4 linked regions of the Homo sapiens genome follow. The protein of the gene in region 2 purifies or fractionates together with the protein of the main gene of each other region. This does not show direct contact. Each region holds a gene or a part of one and is shown on either strand. Other genes may lie near its edges. The genes, in order: NUP54, CPNE2, USP24 and RABGEF1.

Region 1 (4,970 bases), on a different chromosome or scaffold from region 2:
TTAAAATGGACAGAAACATAATTCAAATCCTGAACTGTTGAACCCTACTGTTGTTTGATTTTCAGCTGATTTCTTTCAGTAACTAATTGTACTACTACTACTTGCATAACTAAAAAGAGATGATTCTGTTGTTATTGGTGGTTTTTATTTGTATAGGTCCTAATCAAACAGGAAATTCAAAGGAAGAGTGGTTATGCCATTCAGGCTGATGAAGAGCAGTTGCGAGTTCAGCTGGATACGATTCAGGGTGAACTAAATGCACCTACTCAGTTCAAGGTAACCACTTCTAAGACCATAATTCTAAAATTTGTTTCAGGTGGATCTGCAGACAAAAAGTTATGTAATCTTCAAGCAGGAATTTTGTATACTTGTGTTTCTTATCTCCAATTAGAACTTCCTTTCTAAAGTAAACTCAGTCATGGTTCTTTTGGCTAGTATTAGTGTTTCGAATATAATGTACAGAGAGAGAAATAGAAATTTTTAATAGATGGTTTTGAAACCATCCTTTCAGAAGAAAACATTGTCTTTTACAAGTCTTCGTCGGCAGTTGTAATTTGACTCAGTCTTAACTTTTAGGGCCGACTAAATGAATTGATGTCTCAAATCAGGATGCAGAATCATTTTGGAGCAGTCAGATCTGAAGAAAGGTATTACATAGATGCAGATCTGTTACGAGAAATCAAGCAGGTAAGTGTTGCATGAGGCTGCATTATTTAAAGTGTGAGCTCACCACTTCACACCTATTAGGATGGCTATTATCCTAATAAGAAAAGTGTTAGTGAGAATGTGGAGAAATTGGAACTTTCTTGCACTGTTGGGGGAATGTAAAATGGTTCAGCCTCTATGGAAAACAGTGTAGTGTTTACTCAAAAAATTAAAGATAGAATTACGATATGATCTAGCAGGTCTACTTCTGGATATATACCCAAGTACGTTGGAAGCAGGGACTCAAAACATATTTGTACACCCATGTTCATAGCATCTTTATTCACAATAGTCAAAATGTGGAGATAACCCAAGAATCAATCAAAGAATAGAGAAACAAAATGTAGTATATAGACACACAATGGAATATTATTCAGCCTTGAAAAAAGAATGAAATTCTGACACATGCTACAATGCAATTTGACCTTGAAGAAGTTATGCTTCATGAAATAAGCCACTCATAAAAGGGAAATATTTATGATTTCACTTATGAAAAGTACCTAGTAGTCCAATTAATAGAGAGTAGAAAGGTGGTTGCCAGGGTGTGAGGGGAGGAGGGGATGGGAGGAACTTAACTGGTACAGAATTTCAACTTGAGAAGATGAAAAGTTCTAAACAAAGTGGATAGTGTTGATTATTGCACAACAGCATAAATGTACCTAATGCCACTGAACTGTATACTTAAAAATAGTTACAGGCAAAATTTTATGGTATGCCTGTTTTGCCACTGTTTAAAAAAGTGAATTATCCCTCTCCTCGCCAAAAAGATGAATTTAGAGGTAGTAGAGACACTAAAGTTTCCTAGACCTTGCTCCTTAAAGTGTAGGTAGTAGCCGCACCTGGAAGGTCATTAGAAATGCAAAATTTCAGTCCTTACTCCAGACGTACTCAATCTGCATTTTATCAAGATCATAGAATGATTTGTATGCACTTTAAAGTTTGAGAAGCAACTGCTCTAGATAATACCTTCCCTGCCTATATGTCGCATGTAAGTTATAAACATTTGGTTATTGATCTGTCCCCTAAGCTCTCAGGAGATCTGGATGGAGGTAGGTTGAGGTGGCCAGAACCTCCAACCACTTTTCTAGGGTTTTCACATTGTGTGAAAAAGTTGGGAAACACTGCTTTGGCTTATTTTCATTAGTATAAATGCAGATTGGTTTAATGAAAATGAACAGTTGTATCTAAAGAAAATATATGAAGATGATGAACTTTGTGGAACATACTAGGTAGCTAATGACTGTTGGCATGGCCCTGAGGATTTTAGATAAAGATTATAAATGTCATCAACAAATCCAATTTTATTATGTTAGAATGGATATGGCTGGTTTTATGCAACCAAAAACTACTTTGGCTTCCAGGTTCTTGGATATTACACACATAACCAATTATATTCCATTGTTTTAAGTATTTGCAATAAATTAACAGGTTCCAGTATATTGAAATAAATAGTTGTATTAAATAGAGTTGATATATGCAATAAAACTGGGAATAATTTAAACACCTGTCTTTTTTAAAATTATGAGCAGTGTATTGTTTTGGGATTGAATCATGGTTCACCATCTACTTTATGACCTTGGGCAGGTTATTTACCTGTAGTTTCTTTAACTGTCGAGATGATAATGGTACCCCAAAGGGGGCTCAAAAGGATTTTAAATGAGTTAAGTGAGTGAATACCAGTACTGTTAAAACAGCACCTTAACCCATGAGGAGGAGTCTTAAAAAAATGTTAGCATCTGTAGTCATCACCACCATTATCACTATGTACTTTGTACTTCAAAACATGAATATTCTCAGTTTTCAGAATGTTATTTTGCTAGTCATCTATATTTGAATACCTCCTTTGAGTTCTGTTTTATTATCATGCCTTTATCAAAAGTTGGTAAAAGGAATAGCTATCTAAAAAACATTTTTGTTGGAAGATATTGTTCATTATATATTTGTTTGATTTTATTGTTCTTTAGAGTTTGTCTTTCACTGTTAGCAAAAGATGTAGTACAAATGTTTAAATATGCATGCCCTCTATATTTAGAGCACTTACTAGGTACTGTGTTGCTAGTAAAATAGTCAAAGTGGAGTCTTTTTTCCTGTGACTAGCTTGCAGTTTTAAGAAATTAATACATTAATATGTTGTTTCTTAATTTGTTCTAGCATTTGAAACAACAACAGGAAGGCCTTAGCCATTTGATTAGCATCATTAAAGACGATCTAGAAGATATAAAGCTGGTCGAACATGGATTGAATGAAACCATCCACATCAGAGGTGGTGTCTTTAGTTGACAGTTCACAAACTTGTGTAAAGGTTTGTGAAATGCATCTTCTTACTGCATCAGACCTTCCTTAAGAATGAAACCGACCACATGGAGGGAAAAAGAAAACAATTCTTTCTTGGATTGGTTTTTTGAGAAGTTTACTGACAAATTACTGTTCATCAAATCTGAAATAGTCACCTCACAGCTCTTCAAAGAAAACCTTTGAAAGATTTATATCTAAAAGCTGTATTTACTTTAAAAGAAGTGCATAATTACCAAAATTGTATGTACTATTGTACATTTTTACAACAGCATTTTCTTAAACATAATCTGTGTTTAATGATTATTGTCCATTGAGCCTGTACTCTGCTTTCCATACCAAGTAAATATGAAATAATCTACTTTGCACATAACAGAACAAACTATAATTACTTGGCTGTTGGAGATTTGTACTTGAGTATAAATGTACACCAGTTTTTGTATTTGTGAACTCATCTGTGGGAGGAGTAAAGAAAATCCAAAAGCATTTAATGTTTTGTTTTTGTTCTATAAAGATATGAAAATGTATTTTTATATTATTTTACTTATTTGGAATTTACAGAGCACACCTAAGCAATTAGGATATAACAAAACTACTTAACCATTTTTGCAACCATTTTGTTTTTTAAGCCTTTTTATTTCTAAAAAGATGAAAACTTATAAATAAATTCTTAATTTGTAATTACTTTTATATAATTCTGTCTGGTGCTTTATTTGGCTTTTGAGGAATGACCATTTTTTGTCCACATAGGTACTAAATTCATAATCACAAGTCAGGAATTTTAGTCTTAAGTCTTATTTTTGCCTCCTAGGGATTTTTGTCAGTGCTGTTATATTTTGATTAGGGTATGGCAAGTAAAACTTACTTCAGATATCATCTAGTATTAAGAATTCCCTAATATGTCATTAGTATTCGAAATACTAGAAAATCTGAGTTAAACAGATTAAGTAGTGTTAAATAGTGGGTCTTTAACCAGTGGATCATTTTAAACAGTATTTCTGACTACACTATATTTGGGCTGCATCATGTTGGCCGCTTTTGAGATGCTTTAACTTTGCACTTCTCTGTGATGCTTTGGCTTGTATTGACAGGTGTTAGAAGAAACAGGCCCATGAATCTTGCTATTGTATTTACTATGGGGATGGTGAAGAGTGTGATGCACTGTATATCTATCTGGAGTCCATCCTCTGAGAATCCACTGAAGAGATTTCTCCTCAGTTGTATAGGTTACAGTTGTGTAGACTAGGATTTTTTGTGGGTTTTTTTTTTTTTTTTTTTTTTTGAGACAAGTCTCTCTGTCACCCAGGCTGGGGTACAGTGGCACAATCACGACTCACTGCAGCCTTGACCTCCTGGGTTTAAGCAGTCCTCCCACCTCAGACTCTTGAGTAGCTGGGACTACAGGCATGCACCACCACAACTGGCTATTATTTTTTATTTTGTGTAGAGATGGGGTCTTGTTATGTTGCCCAGGCTGGTCTTGAACTCCTAGACTCCAGCAATCCTCCTACCTTGGCCTGCCAAAGTGCTAGGATTACAGGCCTGAACCTCCATGCCTGGCCAAGACTAGGAACTTTAAAACTGATTGTTTCTTTCCAAATTGACTGCCAGAAGTATGCAGCTACTTTTGCCAAGTTTATGGTGTGTAAATTTGTTACACTACTCTACTACCCTCTCATCATTCTTTCCTACCCATTATATTGCAATACCAACAGTGTTGGGACAGGAATTTCTTGCCTTGTCCACATTTTCTCCGTGGCCCAGAAGATCTGCATGTCCATCATTCTTACCCATGTAGCCAAGTATAGGAGTTTTTGTCCCTCTGCACACCCCCTTATAGTAGGAAGAGTTGTTGGTCTAATTGATGAGAATTGTTACTCACTGAGCTATATAATCTAGTGGATGGATCACTCATCATGCATACCATGGTCGCTTCTCTAGCCTTTGATTTTTCATGTTCTAATATTGCTGGT
Region 2 (7,266 bases):
CTGGAGAAGTCTGGGTATCCTGATCCTAGAAAGGGACCGTCCCTGCATCAGAGTGACCACAACCCTGGAACTTAAAAAATAGCAATTATATGGCCGGGTGTGGTGGCTCATGCCTGTAATCCTAGCACTTTGGGAGGCCGAGGCAGGTGGATCATGAGGTCAGGAGATCGAGACCATCCTGGCCAACACGGTGAAACCCTGTCTCTACTAAAAATACAAAAAATTAGCCGGGTGTGGTGGCGGGCACCTGTAGTCCCAGCTACTCGGGAGGCTGAGGCAGGAGAATGGCGTGAACCCGGGAGGCAGAACTTGCAGTGAGCCGAGATCGTGCCACTGCACTACAGCCTGAGCGACAGAGCGAGACTCCGTCTCAACAACAACAAAAAAATAGCAATTATACACTAGCCCTGCTGTCTACACTTGCCTGGCACGTTACGGTCTCACTGAATTCTGTCTCATTGGATTCTCACAACCATCCCATAAAGCAAATACTAAGTCTATCCTATTTTACAGAGAAGGAGAGCAAGGGCCAGAGGATTGAGTGATTTCACCTAGGCAGCCGCTGAGCGGCTGGGATTCAAACTCATGGCCATGACTCCATGCCTGAGGTTTGACAATGGAGTCAGCCACACCTGCCTCTAACCAGGAGATCCTTGAGGGGATCCCTCAAGGATCCTGATATGTTTCCATATCAACCCCCTGTGGCACATGGTATTTTCTAAAGACAGCCATCACAGTATCTTCCGTCCCACATGCTCTTCCTATTATGTGACGGTGACACCCCTCTGTGACTACAACAGAAGTGACATTATGTGACTCCCAAGGCAAGGGCCTGAAACAGATGATAACGCTTCCACTTGCCTCTCTTGAAATGCTCACTCATGGAACCCTATGCCATGCCACTAGGAAGCCCAGGCTACAAGGAATGGTCTCAGGTAGGTGTTCCAGCTGACAATTCCAGCTGAGGTTCCAGATGACAGCCAGCGTCCAGTGATAGCCATATGTTCAAGAAAGCCTTCTAGACAATTTCAGCCACCACCATGATCTGACTGCAACTGTATGGGAAACACTGTGCAACACCTGCCCTCGATGAGCCCTGAGGACCCCGGAAGTGTGAGGGATAAGTTTTGGGGTGATCTGCGATGCAACATAAATAACTGGAACACCCTCCCTCCGCCAGTCCTCACACACTCCTGGCCCAGCCAGATCCCTGAACAGCTGGCGCTCCTTCAATGTGTCTTTCATTCACGAGCACACTGACATGCATGGGCAAACCTGGGTATTCTGATCCGTTTGTCCAAACAGCCTGGACTGTGAAAATAAACACCCAGATGGCAGGTGTTGACACACATACCCTGACATGGGTCTATTTCGGGGCCTTCAGGCCTCCCACTGTGCACTGAGAGGTCTCCACCTGGGCAGGGAAAGACTTCGTTTAACATTTTGCAGTCTTGTGTTGGGTGTGGAATGAGGATAAAGCATGTAGAATCAACCTGTGATGGATCCTTGGCCTTAATCAACTTCTTCAGGGCTCTCCTGATCCCTGGCCTTTTTTTTAAAGATAGCTTTATGGGGATATAATCCATACACCATGACATTTGTCCTTTTAAAGTGTGTAAGTCAGTGGTTTTAAGAATACCTACAGTTGTGCAATCATCACTATAATCTAACTTTTTTTTTTTTTCATACAGGGTCTTGTTCTGTCACCCCGGCCGGAGTGCAGTGGTGTGATCATGGCTCACCACAGCCTCAACCTCCTAAGCAATCCTCCCACCTCAGCCTCCTAACTGGGACTACAGGCAGGTACCACACCCGGCTAATTTTTTTTTTTTTTTTGGTAGAGATGGTGGGGTCTCACTATGTTGCTCAGGCTGGTCTTGAACTCCTTGCCTCAAGTAATCTGTCTGCCTCGGCCTCCCAAAGTGCTGGGATTACAGGCAGGACCGCACTCTGCCTAGAATCTAACTTTAGAACATTTTTTATCATCTCCCAAAGAAACCCTTTGCCAATAGCAATCACTCCCCATTCTCCACTCCCCGGCCGAGGCAACCACAAATCTGCTTTGTCTGTTTGTGGATTTGTCTATTCTGGACATTTCATCTAAATGGAGCCATGTAATATTTGTCTGAGACTGGCTTCTTTCACTGGGCATAATATTTTCCAAGTTTGTCCATACTGTAGCATGTATCAGTACTTCCCACCTTTCTTTTTTTCCTTTCTTTTTTTTTTTGGAGGGGGGATGGAATCTCCCTCTGTCACCCAGGCTGGAGTACAGTGGCGCAATCTTGGCTGCAACTTCCGCCTCTTGGGCTCAAGTGATTCTCCTTCCTGCCTTCCGAATTGCTGGGATTACAGGTTCTTGCCACTACGCCTGGCTAATTGTTATATTTTTAGTAGAGACAGAGTTTTGCCATGTTGGCCAAGCTGGTCTTGAATTCCCGACCTCAAGTAATCGCCCGCCTTGGCCTCCCAAAGTGCTGGGATTACAGGTGTGAGCCACCACAACTGGCCAGTAATTCGTACCTTTCTATGGCTGTATAATATTCTATGTTGTGTGGATATACCACATTTTGTTTTTCCATTCATCAGTGGATGAACATTTGCGTGGTTTCCACTTTTTGGCTATTATGAATAATGCTGCTACGTACATTTGTGTATGTTTTGTGTGGCCATATGTTTTCATTTCTCCCGGGTAGATATCTAGGAGTGGAATTGCTGTGACCCCTGGCCTTTGTACTCTGCCTCCTTGGCTAGGGATCTAGTATCTTCCTTGACAGGCCCAACTATCTCATCCTTCAGGTTTCTTAAAGGAAGCCTCGCTGACTCCCATGGCTGAGTTGGGTCTTCTGTGCCACCCTACCTCCAATCTTTGCACATTTCATATGGTGATATGATGGCCTGGGTCCTGATCTTGGCCCCCACAGGTGAGCAACTTGAGAGAGACTATCTGCTTTGGTTCACCACTGTCCATCCCAGTGCCTGGCTCTCCTGCTGCTGGAAAGACAAGAGACAGATTCTGAGGCCAGAGCAATCAGGAAAGTCTTCCTGGAGGAAGCGGGGCTGGAGTTGGGTTGATAGGTTGGTTTGCCCCAGAGCGGGGCAGAGGGCTTTGATTGGCTTCGGTGGAAGAAAGGTGAAGAGAGCTTGGAGAAAGGAAAGATGGATGGGTGACAGGCAGGCAGAGAACAAAGCTCAGAGCCCCGGGGGCTGTTTAGTCTCGGCCCCTGTAAGGCTGCAAAGTGCCAGTGACTCAGACGTGGAGGGAGGCTCACAGGCTGCAGCGCGCGAGGCTCCCACATTAACCCTCACCTGCCTGGAATCGAAAAGCCACAATGGAAGCACTCGGCATTAACCCTCAGCTGCCCAGTCCTTGAGCCCCAGGGCCAAGGGCTGTGGACATGGCCTTGAGATCCCCGGGAAAGCCCCGCCCCCCAGAATCTGGTTACGTGAGGCTCAGCCTTCTGATGCCCGGTGGTGAACTTGCCCAGAGAGCACCTAAATACCGCGGAGTGGCCAAAGGCTTGAGCGCCCAGCGACAGACAAGTGTCCTAAGAATTGGTGCCTCTTCTAGGGAAAAGGAGGCCTGGGCTCCAAGGCCTTAAAGACTCGCCTAATTTTCCGCACGGATGAGTAGACCCAGGCCCAGTTCGGATCCGTCTTTATCTTATCGTCTGTGTCAGAGAAATATGTCATATTTCCAATCTCTGGCGGCAAGAAAATGCCGAGCTCTTTTGCTATTGAAAAAAAAAAGGGAAGAAAACACTGCGGCCCTAATCCTGCCCAATACAACCCAGAACCCAGCCTTGGGTGTTGCCCCGAGGGCGCAGCGCCGCTCCCATCGGCGCTGGGGGTCCAAGCGGCCCTGGGGCCCCGCAGGCCCGGGCTGAGGCCACCCCTCTGTTCCCGCGTCGGTGGCCCTGAGCGCACGGCGCTCGGAACTCGGAGGTGCCAGAGGCTCGGGCAAAGCAGGCCTGGGGAGGGCGCGAAGCCGCGTTGTTCCGATCCTCAGCCACCTGAGTCCCAGCCTGGAACCTTCGGACCCTCGCGTTCGGCCCGAACGTTCGGGCCCCCTCGGTGCCAGGCGCCCCGAGTGCCGCGGCGCGCCGGGCGCGGGCTGGGAGCGGCGGACTGCGGGCGGGACAGCGCCCCCGCTCCTCCCGTGGGAGAGCGCGCGCCCCTCCAGGAAGCTCCCGCCTCGCCTCCCACTTCCCTCCCCACTCCCCTCCTCGGCCGGAGGGAGGAGCCCGAGCCGCCGCCGCCGCCGCCGCCCGCCCGCCCGGCCCGGGAGGAGGACCGGACCCCGAGCGGCTGGGAGCGCACGCGAGCGGGCCGTGGCCGCGCGGGCAGCGCCCTGAGCCTGTCCCGCGCCCGCGGGCCCGGCCGAGCAGGAGCAGCTCCCGGGGATGCCCGGGCGGCTCGGAGCGCGGGCAGCGGCAGCCGTGCGGTGAGGGCGGTGGCGCCCGCGGGACCTGCGGTGAGTGGGGCCCGGGCAGGCGGGGCAGCTTGGCGTGAGTGCCCAACTTCGGCCTTGGGGCTGGGCTCTTTGATCCAGCTGCGGGTCCGAAGGAACCCGGGTTCCGCCTCGGGGGGCTGCGGCGCTCTAGCCCCCGCCGCCAGCGCGAACCCGGACTCCGGCGCTTCGGTGACTCAGCTCCGACCCGGCCACGCGGGGGCGCCCCGCCGGCTCCCGGACTGCGGGGAAGGGCGGGCGGGGTCCCTGGGGAGGGGGGCGCCCTCGGGGGTCCGAGCCCAGCTGCTTTGGGGACCCTTCCACCCGCCCCGAGGGGCTTGGAGGGCGTACGGGAGGTGGAGACCCGCCGCTGCCGCAGCTGCTGAAGGCGTGAGGTCGCCCTGGCTCTCGGCGGGCGCTGGCTCCTCTCCGCTCCCCTCTGCCCTCCTCCCACCCCTCAACACCCACCCCCTGCCCCAGGCAACTGCCGGAGGGCCGGCTCCCAGCCCCGGTACTGGGAGCGCAGAGGGGGAGTGGAGCTGGGCAGCTTCCCAGAAGTCGGAGTGTGTTTGCAAACTAGTTTTTGCGAAAAAGCTGTCTGGCACCTGTGTGTTTAAAGGGGGTGTGGGGGTGGGCATGGAGAGAGCGGGCGAACAAGGCCCTCTCTTATTCCCCGTTTCTCACAGCGATGCTCCTCTGAAAATAGAGGGGTCTTACACCCTCTTCCCTGCTCTTCCCACCCCATCCCCCAGCCTCGCTCCACGTCCCCCCGAGTTCAAGAAGCTCTCCTATGGGGAAGGGGCTGCTTCAAAGGGGGCTGTGATTTGCCCAAGGTCACAGATGCTGCTGGCTCTGGTAGCTAATAGGGTGTTCATCTTGCATCTGAATCCCCTGCCCCATATGTACTGGGGGAAGGGACAAGGGGTCTGGAAGAATGATCTTCCAGACAAAACGCCCTTTTTTTTGTCTGCCTTAGTTTTTTGCTCCCTTAGAGGTGTGTGCTGTCATCAAAGGTTGGGGGGCTTTTTCTGCCCCTTGGGCATCCACAGCTTCACGGACTGCAGGGAGCCCATGGTTTTCAGGAAACAGGCGGTGTGCGCAGATTGTAATCCCTGGCAGCTGCAGCCTGCCCTGATGGGGAGGCCTGGGAGACCTGGGTCTGAACCCCACCTATGACCAACAGGGAACTTGGCCCAGACCCTCCCCCCCTGTGGCCCTCTGGGTCACCATCTGTGAAATGGGCTGATGTTCCGGGGCCTGCCTCCTGGAGAATGGACACAGCATGAAGGCGTGGTTTTATGGCATTCCGCCTGGCATAGGTCCAGGTGAGCTCCAGGACCGCCCCAGCCAGCTGGATTGGAAGGGGTCACCCAGGCAGGTTTCTCCATGGAAAGAACCAGGGACGAAGGATGTGGACGCTTGGGTTCGTTTTGCGGCCGTCACTTCCTGTCTGCGTGCCTTGTCACCCCTTGGACTTGGGGGGTTTTCTGTCTGTAAAATGAGGCAAACTGTGACATGATCCAGCTTACAGTAGGGCGGCTGGGAGGCTGGAACTGGGGAACAGGGAGCAGACGTTCTGCAAGTAGGGAGCACTTCATGAGTGGCAAGTGTGGTGTCTCTGGTGGTGTTCCAACGGACACTCCCTCTGGAATGTCATGAGAATTAAAAACTGGGGCATAAGGGAAGAAGATGGCTGAGAATGGAGCCTCGGTTTCTATGTCTGTAAAACAGTAAGTACTGGACCCCATCTGGTCCTCCTCCCAGTCCTCAGTTTTTATATCTATACACCTTCATATTCTTTTCAGGTAATTGTGTATTTCTGCAAAGGTAGGATTAAATTAGATTGCAAGGACTCGGGTGCCAGCACTTATTGGTACGTGGTGAGTGCCTGGTTAACTGTCATTGTCATTATCCATGGGAATATTAAGAAGCCTGATGTGGGTGACTGCATCCAGGATCCTTTGTGGGGTTGTCTCAGGCCAGCTTGCTCCTCCCCCTCCCGTCAGGACTTCTGGGCTGTTCTAGGGGCAGGGGCCTGGGGTGAAAGAAGACCAGGAGAAGTGGTAGGTCTCATCCAGGTGTCCCCATTTCCCCACATCTGGCTGGCCTCACAGGGCTCTAAGGAGTGAACAGAAAACAAAAGAGCACTCTCTAGTAATTTTCTCCCTCCTGTCAGAGCAGGAGGCATCATCGCCAGGCACGGTCCCGATCTGAGAAGCCCTCAGCTCAGGGTCAGGGTGCCCCCAGCCTGATGGAGGTCTCTGTCCCTCTCCCCTCCCCTGAACCTTATTCATAGATGGCACTGGGGCTACCGAATCAGGAGCAAAACACCTTGAGGACCCAGCTCCTTCCCCCTTGCAGAATATGGCCTCAGGGAGTGGAGGTGGGATCTCCCCCAACCCTGCCAGACACGGTGGTGTGGGCTCTGTGGGAGCTGGGATGCCAGGTCACCCTGTGATCTTGGCAGGCAGCATCTAGAAAAGTCCACAATCACACATCTCCCCACCTCCCTGTCCAGAAGGGAGGACATAGGGGTCCCACAGTGCCTGAGGACAGAGCCCAGGTTAGAGGCGCCTCCTGGCTCACATCCCAATGTCTTCTGCCCTCATTGGGCCACTGGACCTCGGCTGTCACTCCCATGGCAGAGTCAAGAAGACTGCTGTTCCATACCCTGGAATATTTCTTTCTTTCTTCCTTTTTTTATTTTTTATTTATTTATTTTTTGAGACAGGATCTTGCTCTGTCACACAGGCCGGAGTGCACTGGTGTGATCTCAGCTCACTGCAACCTCCACCTCCCAGGTTCAGGCGATTCTT
Region 3 (6,506 bases), on a different chromosome or scaffold from region 2:
AATGAAACATCAACTGGAAAAACCTTTCAGCGAACCATTTCAGCTCAGGTGAGAGTTGTCTCTTGTTTTTGCGTGGTCTAAATCACTTATGGAGGATTTTCAGTGTGTTTCTCAGAAACTGCAACCTCTGAGAAGAGAGGTATGAGTTGAAGATGAGAACAAGCAGAAGAAACAATTGGATTTCTATGAAAAGAAAACAGATTGGTGTACACTTACACAAATTTGTGCAGATTATTTGTCTAGAAGGAAAGTCATACAGGTTGGGCAGTCTGGTCACAAAAAGGGACAGGGGTTGAGGGGGTTCTGGTGACTGTGATGAAGGCCTCACTCTCAGGCCTCCGGTCCCACTGAAGGTCAGATGAAAGGTAGTCTTCCCTGGCGGTTGCTGCTGCCACTGAATGGGCCCTAACTTTGTCGTCTTGTGTTTGAATCTTCTGCAGGACACGTTAGCGTATGCCACAGCTTTGTTGAATGAAAAAGAGCAATCAGGAAGCAGTAATGGGTCGGAGAGTAGTCCTGCCAATGAGAACGGAGACAGGCATCTACAGCAGGTATAACGGTCAGCATGTCCTTGTGTGCAAAGGGCAGCCTTGCTCTTAAGCTTTCCAAAAAGAATTTCCACAGCTGAGGGAAAACAAGATGCTTCCTCTGGAATGTGAGTCCAAAGAGTTACCAGCGCTGCCCTCTAGTGATCTCAGCTCAGCATATGCACTAACCGTGTGTTTACAGGGCTGAGTAGTGCTGCAGTGTGAAGTGAATGGAAGGCCTCGAGGTGTTTGTGGCTGGCCACCCTGATCAGCCTGCAGGTAGTCCCGATGAAGCCAGGGCACAGGGGGATTCGTTCCAGCTTGTTCACTTTATTCTGCCTTGCCAGGTTACTGAAAGTCCCTCGTTTGCTCTCACCAGCCTTCCTGGAAATGTGGACTCTTGAAAGAAAAGCTCCCGTGCTCTTGAAGTATACCTGCTTGCCAGGGGAGTCCAAGAAAATTTTGACATGTATTTTTAAAAAAAGAAAAAAAAACAGCTTTAATACCAATCATTATAGTAGAAAAAGAAAATAAATATGTATTGAACACCCACTGTGTGCAAACACTGAACTAAGTGTCAGTTAATCATTACGTCTTTCCAATAGTCTGTAACTTTCCTTAACAGCAGTCTCCTCTGTGGTCCCTTCACAGTACTTGGTACAGAATAGGCCCCATTAAATGAATGTTACTGATGTAGTAGGTGTCATTTTTTTTTAAGTGTTATCTTTCGGATCCTCATAAGCACTATGTGAGGCAGCTGTCACCCTGATTTTACAGAAAGGTAACTGCAGCCCAGCACAGTGATGTGACTTAGCCCAAGGTCACTCCACACATTACCTCATCACCTACTTCATTTGCAGAGAAAATAAAAGCTGTCACAGGAGAGCTCCTGCGGCCACTAATTCCCAAGCATCTGCACTGTTCTTGTCTCCTCTCCTGTGACAGTGGGAAGTTTGCCTCTGTCCACCCAAAGCCCCTAGCGCTCATCCCCGCCCACCTTGGCAGAGCTTTGCGTTCTAATGTGTATGTAACTCTTCAATATCCAGAACGCTCCACCCTGCCAGACCCTTCCCAGCGACGTCTCAGCACACTGGTTTCTCTTCTGCCCTGTCAAAGCCTCTCTTCTGCCCTGTCAAAGCCTCTCTTCTCCCTGTTGCCCCTGCCTTCTTTTCTCTTCTTTGCAGCCAAACTTCGACTAATTCTCTAAACTTAACTTTCCCCATTTTCTTATCTCTCACTCGCTCTTCAGCCTCTTCCCTGCTAACTCCCTCTTCTCTCCAACTCAGCAGTTGGGGTGACAGGTGGCCTGCAGCTTTCAGGCCTCATCTTAGCCGACTGCTCGGCAGCATCTAGCGCTCCTGGCGCTCTTCCCGTTTGAAACACTATTCCAGGGCTTTCCTGACACTTCTCTCTCGTAGTTTTCCTCAAACCCTTCTGGCTGTTCCTTCTCTGTCTCCTTCCTAGTACTGCCTCTTCTGGACCACCAGTAAAGGTTTGTGGAGTCTCTAACCTGTATCCTCCTGCCCTCACTCCATATTCTCTCCGCACCCACCTTGGATTTCTGAACATGAACATCCAGCTCTCTTGTTCTTGACGTTCTCCACTTGGCATACCTTAAAGACCTCAGACTCGATGTGCCCAGCCCCTCCTCCCTGCGCCCACCAAAGCTGGCCCTCCGTCAGTGTTCCTTATCTCACACACAGCACCCCCATGTCATCCCGGACAGCTCCCTTTGAAAGGGTGCTCGTCCCTCTCCTCCACCTGTCATCAGCCCCTCTCTGCCTACATCTGTAAGGATCCCCTCACCTCCACCCCTGCTTCTCTCTGGTTCATGCACTAAAACCTTTCAAAGGCTTTGTATGAGGAGAAAAGCCAGAATCCTCAACACAGTCCTGCTTGATCTAGCACCTGCGCACCTCCCCACCCCCATTTTCTGATTTTTTTTTTTTTTTTTTTTTTTTTTTTGAGATGGAGTGTTGCTCTGTCACCCAGGCTGGAGTGCAGTGGTGCAATCTCACCTCACTGCTACCTCCTTCTCCCAGGTTCCAGCGATTCTCCTTGCCTCAGCCTCCCAAGTAGCTGGGATTACAGGCATAAGCGACTGTGCCTGGCCCATTTTCTGAATTTTATTTATCAAATGTACTCTCTTCCTTCCACCTCAGGGCCCCCCTACTCACCCCCAACTCTCACTCAGCTTAGGTTGTCACTTTAGAGAGACTGTCCTTGCTCCTCCCCACCCCAGCTCCAACTAGATCAGCCCCATGGCACACGGTGAGTATTCAGAACGATTCGCCAAGTGTGTAAGCCAAAGGCCACACAGATGGTAACAGAGGTAGCCTTCAGACCCAGGAGTGACCCAGAGCCCATATTTGGCAGGTGCAGGGCAGGGAGGCTCACACAGTGCCCAACGTGAAGCGGGCACAATGGCCATCAATGCCTCTCCCAGCTTTATCACTGCTCTGCGTTCTCACATGGGTGCAGAGTAGCATTGTGACTTTAGACAAGTCGCTGGGTTGTTTCACTGACTAAATGAGATCATAGAAATGTACATGTTTTACATAATCATGAATTGTCAAATATTAGATGTAATAGTTATCACATTTTATTACCCTTTGATAAACATTGCATTAAGTTGCCAGATGAAGACATGTTTAAATTGCAGAACACAAGTCAGCATAGAAAACCTTTTCTCTAACCGTATGAACTTTAACTTCCTTTTCTTTTCTGCAGGGTTCAGAATCTCCCATGATGATTGGTGAGTTGAGAAGTGACCTTGATGATGTTGATCCCTAGAGGAACATGCCCAGCCTGAGAGGAGTCAAGACACAATACTGGATGCTCAGCACCTTCTTGGAATCAGAATCTCGAACCCTTTGGAAGAGCCTGGAGATTGGACTGGGAAAGCTGCTGTGACTTGGGCGGATCGTGTATTTCTCAAGGAAAGCATTTTTAAGCCACTAGAAGGTTTGGGAGCTGTTTGGCAGTGGGAGAACTCCGGCATGTGGATCAGCTGTCCCGGGAGCGTGGTCTATATGTGGATTCACATTTCTGTGGAGATTTTCGGAAATAGAGCCAGTGGCAGACTTTTTTGTTACACGAACATACAAGAGTGAGCATAAAGCTGTTGCTTTCTCTACGATGCTACAAAAGAAATTCCTTTGGTTTTTATATTTTAAGAAAAAGCAAGCTGCTTTTAGATATGTGGGGGCAAATTTTTAATCTTGCAGTAATATTAAACAGGAATATCCAATTTAAAATGATGTAAAGATGTAATAAAATTCCTTTTCATTGTAAAATAGTAATTAAGTCAATTTACACAGACCTTTGTATTTAATATGTCTCCCTATTTGTATAGAATTTCAGATGGGTCTAGATGAGAACCCTATGCATAAGCTTGGATCTTGATGAAAGGTTACCAGGATCAGGATCAAAAATTGGGAAATACTAAGCTCTTGAAGATATTTTTCTGATATAATTAGATTGAAAAGAGCAATTTTGAAAATGCTGTGTTCTCCAGAAGTACAGGGTGCATTATTTGACATCAATTACTTAAAGAAGTTATGAGTTGTTCCCCAAACAGATTTTAAAAACAGCAAAATAAAAGCACTTTAAGATATAATTTTACTGAGTTTAACTTCACAGAATTATCTTTTTAATGCTTGGAGACATATTGAATAAACTGTAGTCTTAAATCATGTGATCTGCAATCGTTTGCTTTTGCTTAAAACATAATTACTGAAACCCTTGGTATTGGTTGTATATGAAGTTAACTATTTGAGTTGGTACACACTGCTTGTGAGTTTCATAGTTATTGTAATGCAGAGAAGGAATTTGAGAATTTGTTTCTCCTCAACATGACTAATTAACACTGAAAAGTCAGTCAAGGTTTAAGATTTATTTTCCCAGAAATAAATATAAAGCAATTGAATAACCATCCATTTAGTCGTATTTCCAAAGTATAGCACCATTCACTCATTTATACCAGCTCCCTTTTATGGTGTGGGGGAGAGGTTTACACCCACATATTTCATATATATTTTGTACATTTTGTATTTTGAATTGCTCACATTTTCGGCCCTGTTTTGCCTTTAGTTACAGGTCCTGCCTTATTTTCATCTCACCATGCACAGAACTAGGGAGCCTTAGGAAGTGCCAGGTTTTCACTGTCAGATTTGCCAAGTCACAGAGGCGCAGCCAGCCCTGAAGTGCCTGTCTGGCTGCTGTGGCATTGTGTGGGCATGTGGCCAGGCAGATGGCATCTCATTACTGTGCTCTCGCCATGGCCCAGTCTTTTCATTCTCTGGCAGTGAGGGTTTCTGTGCTGTCAGACTTCATTGTTATTCTGTGACTTGCTGGAGGTTGGCAGTGGCCTTTGTCAAACACACTGAGAAGATGGAAGGGCCAGCACTTAAGAGCAGAACTGTACCCTTAGAGAAACGGACAGAGGCGAGTGGCAAACTTCAGACGGTTCCAATGGTCTTGCAGTTTGAAATGTGATGTTCTACCATTGGTTTTGAGTACGTGAATACTTCCTGTCCTACTGTTTCCCCTACCCTATTCTCACCTTCTCTCCGCCCACATCCTCACCAAGAGATTGTGTGGGACATGACCTTGAAATGCTGGCGATGATCCACACTGGGATATCATCGCTGGCGACTGCACTCTCAGGAGCCCAAAATCAGGAGTGAAATTGCCACTTCTAGTCCCCTTATTTCCTATGGAAACAACGCCTTCCGCACCCCTAGCACCTGCCGTCCTCACTGTAAAGCTTCATCAGGATCGTCCACCGTGTATATTATACGCTTCAGATCATGTTGCTTATATTGTTGCTGCAATGACCATCGTTTTCACTTTGCTGGTAACCACTTGATTGCTGACAGCTACAGTCAATGAACCTGCTGATGACTTTTTTTAATGTAGTACAACAGTGACAGTTATGACAGGCTTACCTTGGAAGAGTTGTCATTTTTACTGCCAATTTTTTGGATGAAGATGTTTTTATAAACCTTTCAAAATGGTCTGCAAACAGAGCAGGAATTGCACAATTAACTCAATAATGCTGTGTGTTCTCAAGAAGCTCCCTTAGTGAGGCCGATCTTAAGATGGCCGATTCTGCCCGTTGAAGGCATCCTGGGAAAGAAAACAAGCATCCCAGCGGGCATCTCACCACGACTTCTCCTGGAGTCCTCACACGGTCACTGACAACTACAGTCAGTTTTAGGAACTAGAGTGCCGTATCATCAGACTTACCCTGTCCTGCCCCACCTTCCCTGCTAACATCGAGGTGTGTGCAGTTACCTTCTGAGCTTGGAACAAGCAGACTGGAATTTTCCTCTGCTACCTCTTGTGTATAAAATCTTGTTTATAAAATTTCAAAAGGAAGTAGATACACTAGGGAAGAACCTTAATTCTAAATTTGGTTCATGTGTGGCAAAGTTCTTAGCTTCTAAGAGTATAAAATAAATTTTTCAAAAACAGAGTTGGAGTCTTGCCGCCATTCTTCATATATCAGAACACAGCCGTAGTGGGCGGGGGAACACGAGCCTGTGCCTGGTGCTAAATGCTGTTGATTCCTCTTAGTACTTTACACTAATAAAGGGGACTGTGGGTCCTCTGAGCCTGTTGCTGTTCTTTTCTCTGGAGGGGCTGACCATTTCAGGATTCATCTGCAAAGCTTAGAGGAGGATGCTGAACTTAGGTTGATGGTCTCCATTCATCTCCACCAAAGCTTTTGGCTCTCCCAAGTGGTCCCCAGCATAGATCGTGTCGCTGGTCACACTGGGCTTCTTGCTAGATCCCACAGGTCTCAGTCTCATTCCTAGTGGCCAGCGTTGCTCACATGGGTCCCCTTCCCTATTTGCTAGTCCAGATTTTCGCCTTCCTGCAAGCCACACCCCTTCCTCCCCGATCCCTGGTGACCACCTGCTAACCCTCTGCAAGAACCAAGTTGTTCCAACATCACAGAGCTGTCAGGGTGTG
Region 4 (8,736 bases), on a different chromosome or scaffold from region 2:
GGCTACAGGCACTAGCCCAGCTAATTTTTTAATTTTTTTTTCTTTTTTTAAAGATGGGGGCCTCACATTGTTGCCCAGGCTGGAGTGCAATGGCACGATCTTGGCTCACTGCAATCTCCACCTCCCAGGTTCAAACAGTTCTCCTGCCTCAGCCTCCCAAGCAGCTGGGATTGCAGGCACGTGCCACCACCCCCAGCTAATTTTTGTATTTTTAGTAGAGACAGGGTTTCACCATGTTGGCCAGTCTGGTCTCGAACTCCCGACCTTAGGTGATCCACCTGCCTCGGCCTCCCAAAGTGCTGGGATCATAAGCGTGAGCCCCTGTGCCAGCCGTATTTCTCTATTTTACTAAATTAACACACGGATTATGATTTTTGTTCAATCAGTTATACTTCATTTATTGTCCTTATTTATAGATTTCTTCATTTTATTTTATTTATTTTTTAAGACGGAGTCTCACTTTGTTGCCCAGGCTGGAGTGGCACGATCTCAGCTCACTGCAACCTCCACTCCCCGGGTTCAAGCGATTCTCCTGACTCTGACTCCCAAGTAGCTGGGATTACAGGCGCACACTTCCACACCTGACTAATTTGGTATTCTTAGTAGAGACGGGGTTGTGCCACGTTGGTCAGGCTGGTCTCAAACTCCCAACCTTAGGTGATCTGCCTGCCTTGGTCTCCCAAAGTGCTGGGATTATAGGCCTGAGCCACCGTGCCTGGCCTTATTGTCCTTATTTATTTTGACATTCAAATTATCCCAGACTTGGCCAGTGGAAACCCCTCCAAGCTGGCTTCTGGATCTTCTGAAATGTCCCCAAAATATTGAAGGGGCCCTTTTTTCCCTACTCTAGCCCCAGAATCAGTCACTTCTCCAAGAAGCCCTGATTCACTTTAATGAATAATAGGTTTACTTTCTAAGGTCTGGGTGGTATTGGTATTTTAACTCTAAAAATGAAAAGATATGCTTTAGAGAATCACCGTCTTCAGATCCGTTCATGAAAGAGGTACACAAGATTCTACTTGGAATGACAACATTATAGGAGTTCTGAAAGAAAAGGGCACTTTGGAATGTATAAGCAAGTATCTCAGCTTGGTCAACCACTATGACTTCCTCTATACAGCTCACTCACCCTGACTGTAGAGACTAAAACACTTTAACTGAGTCTTTACAGTCAAGACATTCCATTTACTTTCTCTGAAGGCGTATCCAACTCTAAAAGAATGTGAAGATATTCTTCAAATTCCTTAGAAGGTTATTTGTATTTTGTCTGCTACCAAGCTGCTACGTATGGCATAAAAACTTTCCTTTATGCTACTAACAGAAGCAAGTAAAACACCAACAGCAAGGGTATCATGGACTAAGGAAGATTCAAGAATACAGAATCCAAAAAGTCTGTTTCTAGTCTAGACCTAATACATTAAAACGGCACTTAGGCTAATCTTATCCAAACACAATGGCCAAACAAAAGTAATCAGTGTGAAATGCAAAATTTACCTGGCTAAGTTATATTAAGTGATCTGTGAAACAAAGATACAATGGAATCTTCTTTTCTAACATGAATTTTTAAAATACTTTAAGGTCTTTATCCCCAAAGCTTTCTACAGACAAAAAGCAACTAAAGAACAAACAATCTAAAGTACAAATCTATCATTCAAAAAGATGGGGGATGAGGGGAGACAAGAACAAAGGTAAAAATCATTCTGCATACATATTTTTAAAACAAAATTCACCTGGATTCTTTATTAATTAATTAATTTTTTTAATGTTGGTGTCTCACTCTGCTGCCTAGGCTGGAGTGCAGTGGCACAATCAGAGCTCACTGCAGCCACTAACTCCTGGGCTCATGTAATCCTCCTACCTTAGTCTTCCAAGTAGCTGGGATTATAGGTAGGTAGAAGCCACTGCACCCAGCTCCAGAAATGTTTCTTTTTAAAGTACAGACTCTGCATTGAATTGTAAATTTTCTTTCAATAGTATAATGCACACTGTACAGAGGCTTTTGGGACACAGGTTTTTAAAACCACCAAGGAGAGTTAGCAAATATAAATGACAATTATGTACTTAAGTAACAGAAACTTAATTTCATATATATATATTATTTATGATATATATTAAATAACCTGGGCTTCTGAAGTATACACATTGGATAAAGGAATATAATGGAAAAATATTGACCCAGGAATTAGGAGACATGAGTTCTCATGCACAAACTCATTGTGCAACCTTGGGTAAATTAGTTAACCTTTATGGACTTTCACACTGTCCTCTGCAAAATGAGGCTATTGGAGCTGATAATTTTATACTTGTTTTACTATTTCATCTGTTATCATAAATACTTATCATTTCACTACATATCATCAAGAAACAGACCTTAAGCTAAATAGGAATGAGTATTCTTCATAGCAAATGCCCTTGTGCTCCCTGCAAGATAATTCTATCAGAAGAATAACTTGCATTTTAAAACAGCTAACACTTACTGGAGATCTACTGTGTGTGTCAGGCACTGTGCTAAGCTCTTTACATGCATTAACTCACTGAATCCTCATCACGTGCCTCTGGTAGGTATTATTGTCCCTCAGTGTGGACAGGACTCGGAGAGGTTAGTCTGTCCAAGGTCACAAAGCTGGTAAATACAAAGCTAGGGCTCAAACCAGGAGTGACTCCAAAGTCACCTTACTACCTGGCTATTCCACCTCCTAATAAATAAATCATGAGCCCAATACATTCTTATTTAATCTCTGGCAGGTACTAATTTTTCCCCCCTTTTTCGTAGAGATAAAATTGCTACAACTGGCAGCCAACCAAGAAACAACTTCAAATTAATCATGTAATCAATCTTTTTTCTTTTCTTTCCTTTTTTTAGACAGGGTCTTGCTCTGTCACCCAGGCTGGAGTGCAATGGCACGATTTCGGCTCACTGCAACCTCCTCCTCCTAGATTCAAATGATTCTCCTGCCTCAGCCTTCTGGCCTCAGCTGGAACTACAGGCACATGCCACTGTGCCTGGATGATTTTTCTATTTTTTGTAGAGGCGGGGTTTCACCATGTTGCCCAGACTGGTCTCAAACTCCTGAGCTCAGGTAATCCATCTGTCTTGGCCTCCCAAAGCGCTGAGATTACAGGCTTGAGCTACCGCACCAGGTCTGGTATCCATGTCTTAAAGAGAGGTGTGTTTTTGGTTATGAGCAATATTTCCTTTTAATAAAACAAAAGGAAACAGCAAAAGTCACAAAACCTAGAAGACCAGCAAGTATCTTAAGAAGTAACACTGTCTTATTATTCATTCCCCGGCCTTCAGGGGAGACCTCATTACAATTACCCCAGGGTAGGAACTGGGGAGCAAGTGAGGGGGCTCCCAGAGAACAGGTCTTCTGACAGCATCAGTGTTGGTTCCCAGTCTCCCTCATTATTTCGCTTTGACTGCATAACTCTGAGTACCAACATAAATTTTCAAAGACAGACTGAGGCCTAACAACAAAGAGTCTTTCTTGCTTCATGTTGGGCCACTTCAACTAGCTAGTCTGCTCAATGGTAGAACAACTGTGACTTAAGTGACAATCCTCTTGCTGGTTATATGGCATTTTAAAAAGCAGGGTGAATATGATCACCTACATACAAATCCATGCACTGGAAAATAGCTACTATGGCTCACTTTCATCCCCCCAAGAGCCCAACTTGGGCCTTTTCCTATATGTTCTCAATACACTTCCTCAAGACACAAGCTGTCTCTCAAATAAGCTCTCAGGCAGAAAATCTCTCTCTCAGATGACTATCAAGCCTAGAAATCACCATTTCTGACAAGCTATGAACAGTGAGGGTATTATACCACAGAACAAACCAGGATCCACAAATAAAGGCACAAAAACCAAAACATCCAAAGAGATAGTCATTTGGATGGGGATGAATTTCATAAGCAAAAGTACCTATTTCAATTCTCTTGATTCCTCCTATAAACAAATTTCTCTAAAACACAATGTCTTTCAACCAAAGAGAGTATTGATTTCATATACTGTCTGACCCTCAAGCCCAATTTCAGTGTCAAATCTGAGCTGATGTTCTCAAAAAGTTGACAGAAATTACAAAGCTGAGCTTATGAGCATTGGGGATCTCCTCTGTGTCTCACTCAGGCAGAGAAGAAAAAAAAGAGTATCAGAACATTACCCTTCTTTGATCCGACCCTGGAAGATGCACTGAAGAATTTCTTCACTGTGGTAACCTTGCGGGTCTTCTCGTTGGTTTTCTTTTCTTCAAACTTGGAGAATGTGAGGGATTGGGCCCCTTGGCTGCTCTGACTGCTGGCAAAGGCCTCTTCTTCCTCCCGCTGGAGTCTGCAATTCAAGAGAGGATTAGAATGACCTAGATATTCTCCAAGGTTTCTCTGTATGTGAAGGTTATTACTCCATTAATTCAGGAGGATCTAAAGATTTTAGACCTAGAGACTAAATATGCCAAATCAGTCTGAGGTCTCACATTGCTACAGGATGGACGGCTCTTCATGCACTACAGATTTCAAATGGGGTCTTCTCATACTCATTCAGCTACTGCTCTAGGGTTACATGAAAGAAATCAAGTCTAATCCTTTTCCCTAACAAGCTCAAGGCTGGAACAGACAAAAAGGTAAGTAAACAACTGCTACAGAATGGGACAGCTGCTACATCAGAGAGTAAAAGTTGAGTGCTGTGAGAACACAGGAAAGAACAACTCAATCTGCTGGGGGAGTCTGACGAGGCTTTACAACGGTGATGTTTGGGTGAGGTCTTAAAGGATAAATAGGATCCTTTTTTTGGTTGTTTTTGAGACAGAGTGTCACTCCATCGCCCAGGCTGGAGTGTAATAGCATGGTATCAGCTCACTACAACCTCTGCCTCCCGAGTTCAAGCAATTCTCATCCCTCAGCCTCCCAAGTTATTGGGACTACAGGCGCACACCACCACACCTGACTAATAAGGCTGAATAGGATTCTAAGTGAAAGGACATTCCAGAAAGAAGGAACTACAAATGTGCAAGCCTGTGGTTTGCTTCACAACAAGCTGAATGTAGCCAGAGCACTGGGCGTGTGATGAACTGTGATGCTGGATATACAGGAAGGCTCCAGAGGGTAGGGAATCTTGATTGCTGAGCCCACTATTCTGGATTTCATCATGTGGTAGGGAAGCAAGAAAGACTGTAAATCCAAGGAGTTATCGCTGTCAGATCTGTACTTTAGAAAGATCATGCAGGTAGCTGTGTGAACAACTTGAAGGGTAGAGAAACTAGAGACAGGAACAAGAAGTAAGAGTATATTATAAAGGTTTAAGTAAAAGAAAATAAGCACCTGGAAAATAGGAGTACAAAAGGTAAAATTCAAAAGACTTTTCTGAGTTGGAAGAAATAGAACTTGGTCAAGTTGTAGCTAGCATGGGAGATAAAAGAGAAATCAAGAATGAAACCAAGGTTTTTTAGCTAACTTGGTAAGTAGTGATGCCATTAATTGACTCAGGAGAAGGGTTAGGAGGAAAATGTTCAGAATGCGGAGAATAATAAATAAAAGCAATAAATTTGGCTTTGGATTAGCTGCATGTGAACCACCTGTATTAATTCCCAAACACAGGCCAGGTGCAGTGGCTCACGCCTGTAATCCCAGCACACTGGGAGGCCAAGGCGGCCGGATCACTTGAGCTCAGGAATTTGAGACCAGCCTGGGCAACATGGTGAAACCCTGTCTCTACATAAAATACAAAACTTAGCTGGGCATGGTGGCATACTTCTGTAGTCCTAGCTACTTGGGAGGCTGAAGCAGGAGGATCACTTGAGCCCAGGAAGCAGAGGTTGCAGTAAGTTGAAATTGCACCATTGCACTCCAGCCAGGGTAACAGAGCAAGACCCTGTCTCAAAAACAAACAAACAAACAAAAAGCACAAGCACTATCTAAAAGACAATGATTTTCCAAGTATGATTCCCCAGACAGCAGCGCAGCATCACCAGGCAACTTGTCAGAAATGCAAATTCTCTAGTCTTACTCCCAAGCCACTAAAATCAGAGACTCTGTGGGTAAGGTCCAGCAATCACTGCTTTTACAAGCTTTCCGAGAGATTTAGCAGGGTCACAATTAAAAGCAGTAAGAAATAGAAACAAAAATCACAGGTGGAGGTGCTAAGTCTGAGGGTGGAATCGGGACCCCTCTTTCTCTGGGACAGACAAGAAGTTAATATAAAGGTACTAGGACATTTTTATGTGGTGAGGGGAGGAAGCTGAGGGAGTTTGTGCCTAGTGGCCTCTACTCTGTTTTTGAAACAGGATCTGCTACTGACAGCATCAGGCATGCAGTGGAAACCCTGAGGAGATCATTCATGTTCTCGGCTAAAATTTTCTCTCTTTGATTGAACACAGTCACTGAAAGCAATGTGTAATTTCTAATTCTCTGAGTTCACTACAAATGACAGCAAAGGAGTCACTCAACAAATATTGGCTGACTGGATGAAAAAAAAAAAACAAACAACTAGCTAGAGGAGTTGGCAGAATTCCATTTGACTTTCTTCTGTTGAAGCAGTTTTAGAATTCTAGAATGCTCTGGCAAAGAATTAACATTATTCATGGCATTTTATTAGTTCCTATGCTCACTAGCCATCCCATCATTTATTTATTTATTTATTTATTTTTTTTTGAGACAGAGTCTCACTCTGTCTCCCAAGCTGGAGTGCAGTGGCATGATCTCAGCTCACTGCAACCTCCGATACCTGGGTTCAAGCAATTCTCCTGCCTCAGTCTCCCAAGTAGCTGGGATAACAAATGCGTACCACCATGCCCGGCTAACTTTTTTAATATTTTTAGTAGAGAGGGGGTTTCACCATGTTGGTCAGGCTGGTCTCGAACTCCTGACCTCAGATGATCCTCCTGCCTCACCCTCCCAAAGTGCTAGGATTACAGGCGTGAGCCACTGCGCCCGGCCCATCGTTTAATTTTTAACATCATTATATTTCCGGATAATACCAAATGCTAACCTAATTTTTAAATATAAGTTAAATTTCTACAATGCAATGACTATGTATACAAGTCAACAGATTTCTACTACTGTGTTTTATCACTGAGCTAGATGCCATGCTAAATATATATTAAAAGAATGAGGGAAATAATGCTTGATGAGTGCCATTTCCAAGCCCTGCAGTGGGTACGTCAAATTTATTAGCTCATTTAATCTTCACCAGGAAATATGCCTATCTCCATTCTTCCACTCCAAGGAGCTTATTGTCTACATTTGAGAACTAAAACTAACACAACCCAAAGAAAATAATCAGAAGACAAACACAAAATGAAGAAACTACTGAAAGCTGTTCATTAAAAGCTGACTGAGAAGAAGAGAGGAAAACATCCTTTTCCTTAATATTAAACTGACTTGCTGATAGCTCAAAGCAGAAGTGAAAAAATGTATTTAGACGGTGACAGAACTATGTATCCAGTCACGTCACTGTTCAACCGCCCCTAGTTAAGTCCTTTTACCGCTCCGCCAGCTCCCAGTCCTCCTGAATCTGCTTCTGCCTGGCTTTGTGGTACTCTTCCCTCCAGCACTTGGAGCAGAAACCCTGCCAGGCAGGGTTGCCGTAGTAACCACATCCTTTCTTGCACAGGAGATCCGATTGATCCACATGAATTCCTCGGCGTTCAGACTTAAGGCTCATCTTCTTCCTGCTAACCACTGAACAAACAAGAAAGTGCTGTTGAAAATGAATTATCATTCTACTAAATAAAATCTTACCAATTATGAACAAAAAGTGAGTGATTCCATTATCTTCAAGCTGTTAAGAGAGGGATGGAGGGAATGAAGGAGGGAGGGAGAAAGAGGAGGAAGGAAGAAAAAAGAATGTTAAATATAGTAAATTCCTGACACAGCCATATTAAAGAAAGACTTATTCCCTGCCCAAAATAAAAAATAAAAAATAAAAAATTAAGAAAGGACTCACATTAGATTAAAGACCTAAATGTAAAGGCTGCAAACTAGAAAACTCCTAGAAAAAAAACTTAGGGGAAAAGCTTCCCGACACTGGATTTTGCAATGACTTCTAGGATATGACACCAAAAGCACAGGCAACAAAAGCAAAATCAGACAAATACATTATATCAAACTTTAAAATGTCTGCACAGGCCGGTGTGGTGGCTCACACCTGTAATCCCAGCCCTTTGGGAGGCTGAGGAGGGCGGATAACAAAATCAGGAGATTGAGAGTATCCTGGCTAACACGGTGAAACCCTGTCTCTACTAAAAATACAAAAAAATTAGCCAGGCGTGGTGGCGGGCGCCTGTAGTCCCAGCTATTCAGGAGGCTGAGGCAGGAGAATCACGTGAACCTGGGAGGCAGAGCCTGCAGTGAGCCAAGATCACGCCACTGCACTCCAGGCTGGGTGACAGAGCAAGACTCTGTCTCAAAAGAAATAAAAAATTTTTAAAAATTAAATATCTGCAAAACACAGGAACCAACTGACAGGGTAAAAAGGAACAACACACAGAATGGGAGAACTTATCTGCAAACCATATATCTAATAAGGGGTTAATATCTAAAATACGAAGGAACTCCTACAACTCAATAACAACAACAACAACAACAACAACAAACCCAAATAATCCGATTAACAAATGGGAAAAGGACTTCAATAAACAATTCTCCAAAGACATACCAACAGCCAACAAATGTGAAAAATGCTCAACATCACTAATCATCAGGGAAATGCAAATCAAAATCACAATGAGATATCACTTTACACC

Evidence for each region.
Region 1: the proteins of CPNE2 (region 2) and NUP54 purify together in Homo sapiens (co-immunoprecipitation; 3 studies listed by BioGRID and IntAct, with this or other methods). This does not show direct contact.
Region 3: the proteins of CPNE2 (region 2) and USP24 purify together in Homo sapiens (co-immunoprecipitation; 3 studies listed by BioGRID and IntAct, with this or other methods). This does not show direct contact.
Region 4: the proteins of CPNE2 (region 2) and RABGEF1 purify together in Homo sapiens (co-immunoprecipitation; 3 studies listed by BioGRID and IntAct, with this or other methods). This does not show direct contact.

Annotation. Positions count from the first base shown.
Region 1 is NC_000004.12:76,113,381-76,118,350, reverse strand, and holds the end of NUP54 (nucleoporin p54), read left to right. Parts: intron 1-156; coding exon 157-276; intron 277-576; coding exon 577-687; intron 688-2,856; coding exon 2,857-2,985; 3' UTR 2,986-3,687; downstream 3,688-4,970. UniProt on the Homo sapiens protein: Component of the nuclear pore complex, a complex required for the trafficking across the nuclear membrane.
Region 2 is NC_000016.10:57,088,317-57,095,582, forward strand, and holds the start of CPNE2 (copine-2), read left to right. Parts: upstream 1-4,266; 5' UTR 4,267-4,474; intron 4,475-7,266.
Region 3 is NC_000001.11:55,065,859-55,072,364, reverse strand, and holds the end of USP24 (ubiquitin carboxyl-terminal hydrolase 24), read left to right. Parts: coding exon 1-48; intron 49-440; coding exon 441-551; exon of another isoform or gene 552-806; intron 807-906; exon of another isoform or gene 907-967; intron 968-3,257; coding exon 3,258-3,320; 3' UTR 3,321-6,006; downstream 6,007-6,506. UniProt on the Homo sapiens protein: Ubiquitin-specific protease that regulates cell survival in various contexts through modulating the protein stability of some of its substrates including DDB2, MCL1 or TP53.
Region 4 is NC_000007.14:66,770,819-66,779,554, reverse strand, and holds part of RABGEF1 (rab5 GDP/GTP exchange factor), read right to left. Parts: intron 7,673-8,736; coding exon of another isoform or gene 7,656-7,672; coding exon 7,477-7,655; intron 5,865-7,476; coding exon of another isoform or gene 5,728-5,864; intron 4,329-5,727; coding exon 4,162-4,328; intron 1-4,161. UniProt on the Homo sapiens protein: Rab effector protein acting as linker between gamma-adaptin, RAB4A or RAB5A. Involved in endocytic membrane fusion and membrane trafficking of recycling endosomes. Stimulates nucleotide exchange on RAB5A. Can act as a ubiquitin ligase.